Regions from separate parts of the Homo sapiens genome. Here region 1 is linked to region 2. Evidence: fine-mapped expression QTL. A gene starts in region 2. The other region holds a variant in brackets. All regions are shown on one strand. Distances are between the middles of the regions. Region 1 has its middle 32 kb from the start of ITGB6. Region 2 holds the start of LINC02478 (long intergenic non-protein coding RNA 2478).

Region 1 (5,382 bases), 39 kb after region 2:
GCTGAACTTTCATATCTTTCAAATGTGAATAATAATCCCTGCTTTTCCAATCTTATTAGACAGCTGACAGGGACAGAAAGCATAATATAAAAGGACTTCACAACGTTAGTGGAAAATGGAATTAAAAGATAAAAACAGAAAATATAAACTTTGTTTTTCAACATAAGCTTCTGGCTCACACCTGTAATCCCAGCACTTTGGGAGGCTAAGGCAGGTGGATCACTTGAGCCCAGGAGTTTGAGACCAGCCTGGGCAACTTGGCAAAACCCTATCTCTACAAAAAATAAAAATAAAATAGCTGGGCATGGTGGTGTGTGCCTATAGTCCCAGCCACTTGGGAGGCTGAGGTGGGAGGATCACTTGAGCCTGGGAGGCAGAGGTTACAGTGGGCAGAGATCATGCCACTGCACTCCAACCTGGGTGACAGAGTGAGACCTTGCCTCAAACAAAACAAAACAAAACAAACGAAAACATAAGCTCCATCAAGTTCAAGACACTTTTATAAGTGATGATACCAGCCATTTAATTCATACCTAAGGAACTGAGAGTCCTGGGAACTTAAACATGCCAATGTAGTCATTTTTACGTTTAATACTTCAGTTACTACTAAAGAAAAATGAGTGCCCTTTAAAAAATATTTTTAAAGTCAGGAAACAAAAAGAAGTCAGAAAGAGCCAAAATCAGGACCATACGGTGGATGCCTAATGATTTCCTACTGAAACTCTCACAACATTGCCCTTGTTTGATGAGAGGAAAGAGCAGGAGCATTGTCATAATAGAGAGAGGTTCTTTGGTGAAGCTTTCCCGGGCATTTTTCTACTAAAGCTTTGGTTAACTTTCTCAAAACACTCTCATACTAAGGAGACCTTGCCGTCCTTTGGCCCTCCAGAAACTCAACAAGCAAAATGCCTTGAGCATCCCAAAGACTGTTGCCATGACCTTTGCTTTTGACTGGTCTGCTTGTGCTTTGACTGGGCCACATCCACCTCTTGGTAGCCATTGCTATGATTGTGTTGTGTCTTTAGGATCATATTGGTAAAGCCGTGTTTCATCTCCCATTACATTCCAAAAAGAGATGCTTCAGGATCTTGGTCCCATTTGTTTTAACATTTTCATTGAAAGCTCTGCTCTTGTCTGCAGCTGATCTGGGTACAACGGTTTTGGTGCCCATCAGGTGGAAAGTTTGTTCAACTTTAATTTTTCAGTCAGAATTGTGTAAGCTGAACCAGTTGAGATGTCTGTGGTGTTGCTATTGTTTGTGCTGTTGATCATTGGTCATCTTCAATTAGGGCATGAACAACATTTTTTTCCTTACAAATTGATGTGGATGGTCTGCTGCCATGGGCTTCATCTTCAACATTATCTCAACCCTTCCTAAAATGAGTTATCCATTTGTAAACTGCTGATTTCTTTGGTGCATTGTCTCCATAAACTTTTCATAAATCATTAATGATTTCACCATTCTTCCACTCAAACTTCGCCATAAATTTCATGTTCGTTCTTGCTTCAATTTTAGCAGAATTCTTGATGCTCTGATATGTGCTCTCTTTGAATTTATGTCTTATCCTTCTTCTTTTTTTTTGACAGACCCTTGCTCTGTCACCCAGGCTGGAATGCAGTGATGTGATGTTGGCTGACAACCTCTGCCTTCCAGGCTCAGTGATCCTCCCACCTCAGTCTCCCGAGTACCTGGAACTAGAGGCGCACACCACCATGCCCAGCTAATTTTTGTATTTTTTGTAGAGATAAGGTTTCACAATGTTGCCCAGGCTGGTCTTGAACTCCTGAGCTCAAGTGAGCCACTCACCTCAGCCTCCCAAAGTTCTGGGATTACAGGTGTGAATCACCTTGCCCAGCATATGTCTTATCCTTCCTAGTCCCTTAAACTAGATCATCTTCAGGTATATTGTAACAAGTTAATATGAGCTTATTTTGGTGCAAAAAAATTGAAATGCATGCAGTTTTTTTTCATAATACGCAATTTTTGTGAACTTTTGAAGACACTTCATAGAAAAGAAATTGCCTCTAAGACTTAAAAACCCCAGAAGCCATGATATTACAAATTATCAAAAAATTAACTCTGCCTATCTCTGCAATGCTCCCATAACCTAGAAAGCTCAGTACTCTTACATCACCTAGGAAAGTCCCAGAGTTTGTGCAGGAAGGGTTGAAATCACTTAAAGTCTGATATTTGTTTTGGAACCATTATCAATAACATAAGTAAGTAGTTTAATTCTTAAGAGCTCTAAAGATGTATTTGCAAAAGGAGAGGCTAGAATGAACAAATGCCGTGTTGAGAGAATGCTAAATTTCATACCTGCATTTTTTTTTCTGCTGTCTGGGTTAGGCCATCTGCACTTTAGAATTGGGAAGAGGACAGACACATTGAGAGCATGACACAGACAGAAATCTTATGTCAACTGCAGATTAAGGAAACTTTCTCCCTCTGGGCCTAACTCGGGTGTCTAGAAGGTACACCTGCTCATAAATAACAAGAGTATTCACCAGTGTGGTGATTTTCTCCACCTGGGTTATATAGGGATTTCAGCTCACTCTGTAAATGATTAGTATATGTCCTTATAGAATAAGTTATATGATGTATGAGAGAAATTCATGAAGAACATTAGCCATTTGTACCATTCCCCTAGCCAGCCAGAGACCAGTGTGGACACAGCATCTTTTGCTCTAAGACTTACCCACCTGGCAGAGTGTTCCAGCTCACCAAGGGCCTTTCTCAGAGGCAAACCTCGGGACAGACAGAAGACATTGACTGTTGTTGTTGTTGTTTTTCTTTTGCCAAATCAATAGCTGCCTACTGACTGTTGTTTTAAAGACTGAGGACTCAGTGACTTTGAAGTCACAGAAAGTAGGAGTCTGGCATTCTTTTTTTTTTTGAGACGGAGTCTTGCTCTGCTGCTCGGGCTGGAGTGCGATGGTGCAATCTTGGCTCACTGCAACCTCCACCACCAGGTTCAAGTGACTCTCCTGCCTCAGCTTCCTGAGTAGCCAGGATTACAGGCGCGGGCCCCCATGCCCAGCTAATTTTTGTATTTTTAGTAGAGATGGGATTTCACTGTGTTGGCCAGGCTGGTCTTGAACTCCTAACCTCGTGATCCGCCCACTTCGGCCTCCCAAAGTGCTGAGATTACAGGCATGAATCACCGCGCCCAGCCGAGTCTGGCATTCTTGGCCTAAGGGAGTGATAGTGTGATTGAGAGTGAGCCATTTGTCTGCTCTGGGCCTTAGTATCTTGTCTATAACAAAGCAGGACTCTTCCAGCTCTA[C/T]AAATGTCAAGAGCCAAAGCCAATGTCTTAAGCACTACCTGTCCAGATTACCACACATCTCACCAGGTGAGCCTTGGTAGGAAGCTGAGGCCAAGTGGGCCAAATGGAACCGCTGGGCAGATTTGATAGGCCCTTTACAATGCTTGTTGAAAGTATTTCATCACAAATCTTTGAAAATCAGAAGACATCACATAAGAAACTAGATTTCTGGCTGCCCGTAAAAAAATCAAAAGATTGGCCACATTGGGCCCAAATTCTGATATGGCAACAGTTAGCTAGAGTTTGGTGGTGGCTGTTCCCTTTGAATGAGGCATGTGTTCTTCAGTTTGCCACAGTCTGCACCACTCCCTATTGCAGGCTGCACCTAGTCTACTTTACAGTATCCTGACTCCTGTAGACTTTTGAAATTCTGATCCTTGCTTTAATATCTCTTCCACACCCAGGTGTATTAACCTCCACTTTCAGTACCTCTTCTAAAAGCAGACTGTCTGCAGAAAGAGAAATTAACATCTTGGCATGAAGTAGGTGAGCAGAACACTATTCGTCAGATAGGAGGATCTTGGAGTCCTGGTGAGGAAGGAGGAGGGCCAAGAGACCAGGGAACACCTTTAGAAGGGCAAAGGGTTACATAAAGTAGCTCTGTCCAATAGAAATATAATACAAGCCACAAATGTGAGCTACATATGCAATTCAACATTTTCTAGTAGCCACATTATGAGGAAGTAAAAAGAAACAGGTGAAATATTTAACTGAACATACCAAAATATTGTCATTTCATTATGTAATTGATTTTCAAAATTATCAGTGAGGTATTTTACATATTTTTACATGAAATCTCTAAAGTTCAATGAGTATTTTATACTTGCAGCACATCTCCATTTGGACTAGCCACATTTCAGGTGCTCATAGCCACATGTTGGTAGTTGCTACCATATCAGACACACGGAGGTAGAAAATTAAGAAATTATTGACCAGCTTACTAGTTTTGCCTAGAGCCCTCACTAGCTACCTTATGAGATTCGGAAGCGAACCACATTTATTGAATGCTCACTATGAATTGTATGTAATAAATATACAATTTATTTCATTTTAGTTTGCATGTCCCACCACAAAAGACAGCTAGAGCAGAGGGTAAATGCCATTGAAATAGGCCTGATAGACTGCACGACTCTGTCTGCTGCTGTAGCATGGCTGTGGTATTTCTTAGCCTCAGTTTTCTTATCTCCAAAACTGGTGATAATTGCATCTACCTTAAGAGGTTATCATGAAGTTCATGAAAATGCTTTATAAACTGTAAATAACTATACAAGTTTAACAAAAGGAAAAATAGCTTTATTTTATTGAATTGCCAAGTTCTGTGCTAGGCACTTTGCACATGTTATCTGTCTTCATCTTTATAATACCTTTATCAAATCATACTATTATCCAGGCTTTAAAGAAGAAGAAACAGCCTTCTAGAAATTCAGCATCTTGTACAAAGTCAACAGGTAGTGAGTGGCAGAGCCAATCACAGCTTTGAAAATAGGGTATTTGATATTCATGGCACCACCCTAGTTAGAGAGAGATGGAGAAAAAGAGAGAGAATATAAATCTTACACTTCATTTTCTGAGACATTTGGGTAAATGTTTTAAAGATGAAGAAACTGGGAGCCAGGAGCAGTGGCTCACACCTGTAATCCCAGCACTTTAGGAGGCCGAGGCAGGCAGGTCATTTGAGGTCAGGAGTTGGAGACCAGCCTGGCCAACATGGTAAAACCCTGTCTCTACTAAAAAAATACAAAAAAATTAGCTAGGCATGGTGGCGTGAGCCTATAATCCCAGCTACTCAGGATGAGGTTACAGTGAGCCGAGATCACACCACTGTACTCCAGCCTGAGCAACCGAGCAAGACTGCATCGCAAAATTAAAAAAAAAAAAAGTGAAAAAGAAAAAAGAAACTGGGGCTTTATAATTATATCTAGGATCACACATGTGGCAAATTAACAGCCCAGGTAAATTAAGAATTGGACAATCTCTAGGGTTCTCATTCTGGATTTAAACCCATTGAACCACTGAGCTGAATAAATCTCTTGATTATTGAGATTATTTTTTAATCCCC
Region 2 (5,382 bases):
CCATGAAGACTTATCCAAGTGCATGACCGGATTTTTGTGGTTTTGTTCATTTTGTGTTTAATTTGTGTTTTTTTTTTCCAGCTGTATGAAATGGGCTTTCTGAAGTTTAAATAGTCCGACTTCACCCATGGTGTTCTGTGCTTGCAGTGCGAGTGTTGCTGTAATTCAGTGTTGCCGTCAGTGTCTCTTTTCTTAGCTTTCTGTCTTTCTTTCAACGTAGTGTGAAGTGTCTTATCCTTTTCTATGAATTCCAATTTGCCTTAACTCTTTTGATGCTGTAGCTGTTTCAGTAAAAGTTAGTTCAAACTAATGATGTAGAATGCTTTGACCAAATGAGCTGGTCTATTATGCCTTGTAAAACAGCAGCATAGGGCTTTTAAAAGGTAGTCAATAAAAGTTGCTGAAATTTTGGCTTTTTTAAATATGTAGTAGGTGTTTTTAATGATTTTTCACATAATGTGTAAGGTAGTGAAATGCAAGAAGGGAAAAATGTTTTGTGTGAAACACATTTTCTGACTGGGGAACTTTTATTAGGGTAAATTGTTTGTAAGGCTGTACGCCAACAGTTTCCTCTGATAGTTTGACTGATTTAGGATATCTGCTGTATGATGCAATGTAAAGTCTTTTTTGCCTTTTTTCAGGAAAAAAAAAAAGCTAACTTGATGTACTAGATTTAGTGTAGGTAGTGTTGGGGTTGGGGATGGGGGTGGGGGAGGGGAGTCACTGAATGTTTTGTCCTTCCTTTATACTAATGATAGTGCTTTAGAATGAGAATTATGCCTGAAATCTGGCAAACCGAAAAATGTTGCTATTGCAACAAAGTGGCAAAAGCTAAAAGTAAGGATTTATCTTCAAACATAAGCTGAGATAACGAATAGAAGCAAAACGATTGGCTACTAGCTCTCTCTCTCTCTCTCTATTAGGTAAATTTGAAAAATAAAAATGACTTGGCACTTTTAAAGGTAACTTCACCAAAGACCGAAGAGCCAGTAACCAGTAGCTCCAACTTGTCTCAGCATCACATCTTCTGTGCTCTTTATTTTTGCCGGACCAGTTTGCGGTTAGGAGAATGTGCCTTTTTTGTACCTTTGCATTTAGGTTTTATAATTTTAATTGATGTATGGACACACACAAACAAAAAAGCATGAAGGAAGATTTGGATCCAAGCAGTGCCACACTTTACATCATCACTACAAGTGTTCAAGTGTAAAGAAAACCAATTTTGAAACTATGAAATTCCTGATTCATAAATACACAGTTATTTCTACTTTAGTACATATAAGATAATTCACTGTTATTAAAGCTCTTTTATTAAGGCAATTGCATATGTTTTAAAAGCAATGGTAAATTAAGTTGTCTTCCAAAACTGTGTACTTGTCTGGTCAGCTGTGTATGATCAGTTATCTACCTCAGAGTCTATTTTCTTTTGTGCTGGGACAGGTTGCTGGCCCTCCCTGTTTCCACAGACCAAATCCTCCTAGCTCAGGAGCTAGGGCTAAGCAGTTATTTCTTTCAAGTATTTTTTAGTTCTTAAATTTTATGCTTGTATTTGATGATAGATGTCAGTGACATTTCATAGTTTCAAAAGTCCTTGCTGCTCTGAGAAGTGTAGATTCTAGTGAAAATTACATAGTCATAAGAGAAATGTGTTTTTGTTTTTGTTTTTGTTTCATTTTTTTAAAGTTGTGGTATTATTGGTTCTATGCTCCCTGGAATATTACTGCTTTGTGAAAGTCCAGACTGAACGCAGCACCCTCTGTGTACCTAGTACAGTTATAAACCTGGGTCTCTCACTACTTGATATTTTTGCATTAGTTAAGACAGAAATTTGATAGCTCGGTTAGAGGGGAGGGGAAATCTGCTGCTAGAAATGTCTGAACTAAGTGCCATACTCGTCTGGGTAAGATTTGGGAAACATAACCTCTGTACATAAAAAAAAAAAAATCAGTTAAACATCACATAGTAGACAGCCATTAAATTATAAAAAAATTAATTTATGAAGAAAGACCTTTTGTACAGATTGAAAAAAAAAGATTTTCATAGAGATATCTATATGATCAAGAGAGTTAATTTTTTATTTTTGTTTTACTAGTGCCACAGACTTGCCAGTGGTAACTTATTTGTCCGGTTCAAGATAACTCTGTAGTTTTCTTTCCTAGGACTTGTTGTTAAACGCCAAAAGACATTTTTGAACTGTACATTTGATCAGATTGTTAGCTTTTCTGTTTTATTTCTTTTGAGAACCTTTGAATAAAAAACATCTGAAATTTTATTTTTCCTGTCAATTTTTTTTAAGTCGATTAAGTGTATATCAGAATTTCATTTCATTTCTGATCTCTTTCTTCAGCTCAGTAGATTGGTTTGAAAGTGAGTTGAAAGTTATGTCAGATTCAATATATCCTCAAAATACATTTCCTTGAAAACAATTGGAAAAACCTTTCCACCCCACTTTTGCTGGTTATTTAAATCTGTGTAATGACCAGAGACGTCAACCCTCAGCTCAGCACGTCAACCGTCAGCTCAGCACGTCAACGGTCGGCTCAGCAAATATCCAGCCCAAAATACACCACTAGTGGTCTGTTCTTAAAGACCAAAAAACCAGGCCCTTTTTCTTCCTCCTTTCTTGCTGCTACGCCTCAACTATTTCATTGCTTGTCAATGCTCAGCAAGGAAGACAGCCTAACAGCAGCCCTCCCACCTGTGGTAAGGAAGCATGTGGGCGAGAACCTCGGGATAATCTTATCTATGCGTTTATGACCAAGGTCCTCTTTCAGAGCTACCTGTTCAGCTGTTCCCGACTGGAGGCTCCCGTGCAGCATTCACGGAGGAGCGAGAACTCCTCTTTCCCTCACTTGACTGCTTTATAGGAGGCACTTAATATGCAAAATAGGCTCCTTCTGCCCAAAGTGGAGTAAACGTTTTAGTGTGGTGGTTCAGTATTTATTTCCTGGTGTCCAGTGGCTCTGTCATGGTGATAAAAAGAGTGGGCAAGGAAAAGATGCAGTCCGCTCCATTTCTGGCTGCGTCCCCTGCCATGTGGATGGTGTGCGGGGTGAGTTAGATAAGGGAGGGGTCAGAGCACTTAACTTGCCGGAGCCAAGAAATCGCTGGTACTTGATGGCTGTTTCAGAGAAGGAAACAACATTCCTCTGATGCTAACTGGTGCTTCTGAGAGCAAAATGTCAGGGAGGAGAGAAGCATGGCCTCTCGAGACAAACCCAGGCTGCTAAGAATGTAAGCTCTGGTCTCACTTTGCGTTCCAGCCAAACACCTAAGTGCTCCTTTCTATGACCAAAGGTAAGAAAGAAATGCAATTCAGGCTCCTGGGCACCTTCGTTTTTGTTCACCCTATTTTTGTTGTAGCTTCTCGCCGCTGAAGTCCGCGGCCCTCTATCTGGCTGTGTTATGTACTGAAACCGGTAAACATACTCAGGAGCACCAATCCACGGAAAAGGGAGGATCAAGCCAGCGATGGTGGTTCACAGTTACCGCTCCCATATAACTAGAGGGGTTGTGGCATGTTTGGGGATAAACCCCACCTAGCTGAAAGCTCTGAGACTGAAGTGGAATTCTGGGGTTGGAGGAGAGGAAAGAGGGTGTGGCCGTTGCTCTGTGGTCTACGTATTTTCCCCTCTATAGTGGCTGGAATGAGGAAAGCCAGGGAGTGGAGGCGGGAGTCCCGTTTTTCACCCCACTGCCACACCCTTCATGGCCAGTGGCTCTAGGTTTATCCGCTGGAGCTTAAATCCCACAAATACTGATTTAAAATTCACTAGGAGAAAGGCAGTGCCTCCCAGCCTGAGCCGGGGCTCAATGAATGTTAAGATATGACTGATTATATCCTCATTCCATTAGGGTAGCCAAAAAGGAAAAGAGCCAGCGCCATTGGGACAAAGGTCACCGACCTCTCAATCGCCCTGCCCCTTCCACAAAAAGCCTGAGATGTCAAGTAGGTGGGGGAGGGAGGAGAGCCGGGAGCTCAGGATTTGAGGAAGGCCAGGCAGTCTCTGCCCCTCGAATAGCAACGCGATGAGCTCAGCCCCCTCAGTCCAGGCCGAGAGCCAGATGGGGGTCACGTGGCCGCGGGGCCCCCCGGGCGCAGGGTCCTCGGCACAGCTGACGGGTGCGCGCCGAGCTCCGCCGGGCGAAGGAATTCCAGCCCCGCAAAATGGCTCCAGAGTGTCTCCCGTGACTCGCTCGGTGGCTGCGGAAGGCAAGAGGGTGTGTGCGCTTGAGCCGCTAGAGGGAGGGTGTTTTGTTCCTCAGCCGTCAGACGCGAGCTCTGCAGGCCGAAAACCCAGACCCGCTGCAGCCGACATCGGGAAGCCCCTGGGCGGAGGTTTAGCCTGTCGGGGCACACAGGCCTGGGTCACAGGGGTCTTGAATTTGGGGTTCCTCGTAAGACTGGAGCGCAGGCCGTCGCCTGTGCTGGCAGCGCCCTCATTGTGAGCGTTGTTGGTCAGACTGGGGAGTGACTGAAATGTGACTTTGAAGGTTCAGGGCAGCTGGGGGCGGCTAGGGAGGAAACCGCGCGCCTTGCCAGACCACGTGACTCGGCGCGAGAAAGCGATGGCAGGTCTCTGGGCTGCTCAGAATTGAAAACGTGGCTTTGAATTAAAGAATTCGGTTGTTTTATGCGACTCTGAGAGACTTAAGATTTGATGTAGGCTATTCCAGTGCTCACACAGGACCCAGACCATAAACCAGACTGCAGGGATTTCCTATCCTCTAGTATCCTTGAAGCCACCTGCCCTACTTGAACACCTCCAGGGACCAGGCACTGCCTGCCTCACAGGGCATCAGGTAGCTTTAGGGAACAGCTCTCAAACTTGTTTGCAGAGGAGTCCAAATTGTGGCTTTGAAATTCCCACTTACCGGCCTTAGTGCTGCCAACCGGGATGCCACAGAGTCAGTCAGTCATACTTCAAGTGTGGAAACGTGACTCCATGGCTCTGCTCTTCTCTGGGTTGAGCATTCCTTCCAGCTTTAACTCTTCCTCGTCAGCCCTGGTCACTCCACATCATCAACTCACCTTCCAGATGTACCACAGTTGACTCAGGATAAAACCCAAAACCGGAGGAAGAACTTGGGACTTCACCTGTCTCCCCTGCCCTGCCGGTTCCTTTTTGACTTCTCAGACATACCACAATTCTTAGAACTTGTAGCCAGTGAAAATCCCTATGTTGCTTTATTTTTTAAATGACAGTAGTTACGCTAAAGACATGCAAGATAATATGAAGTCATTTTAAAATGAGGACATTTTAATGACATGGAAAATGCTTAGGATATAACGTGAATAAAAAGTGTTAGGAACAGACCTGTAGATACAGTATGATCAAAACTATGAAATAAGTATAAAACCCAAGGAGAGGCTGGGCACAG

Evidence for each region. PIP is the estimated chance that this variant, and not a neighbour inherited with it, causes the effect.
Region 1: its variant is the best candidate, but not a certain one, in a credible set for the expression of LINC02478 in sun-exposed skin (GTEx, PIP 0.56).

The regions. Positions count from the first base shown.
Region 1 is chr2:160,230,047-160,235,428 of GRCh38, reverse strand. No RefSeq gene overlaps it. Among named protein-coding and RNA genes, the nearest start is that of ITGB6, 32 kb to the right of the region's middle. RefSeq lists an enhancer at 4,802-4,971. The variant C/T (reference allele first, on the strand shown) is at 3,285.
Region 2 is chr2:160,269,041-160,274,422 of GRCh38, reverse strand. It overlaps LINC02478 (long intergenic non-protein coding RNA 2478), which reads left to right and starts at 2,528. Exons shown (of 2, transcript NR_103775.1): 1 at 2,528-2,703. It overlaps RBMS1 (RNA binding motif single stranded interacting protein 1), which reads left to right. Exons shown (of 14, transcript NM_016836.4): 14 at 1-2,272. RefSeq lists an enhancer at 3,711-4,320.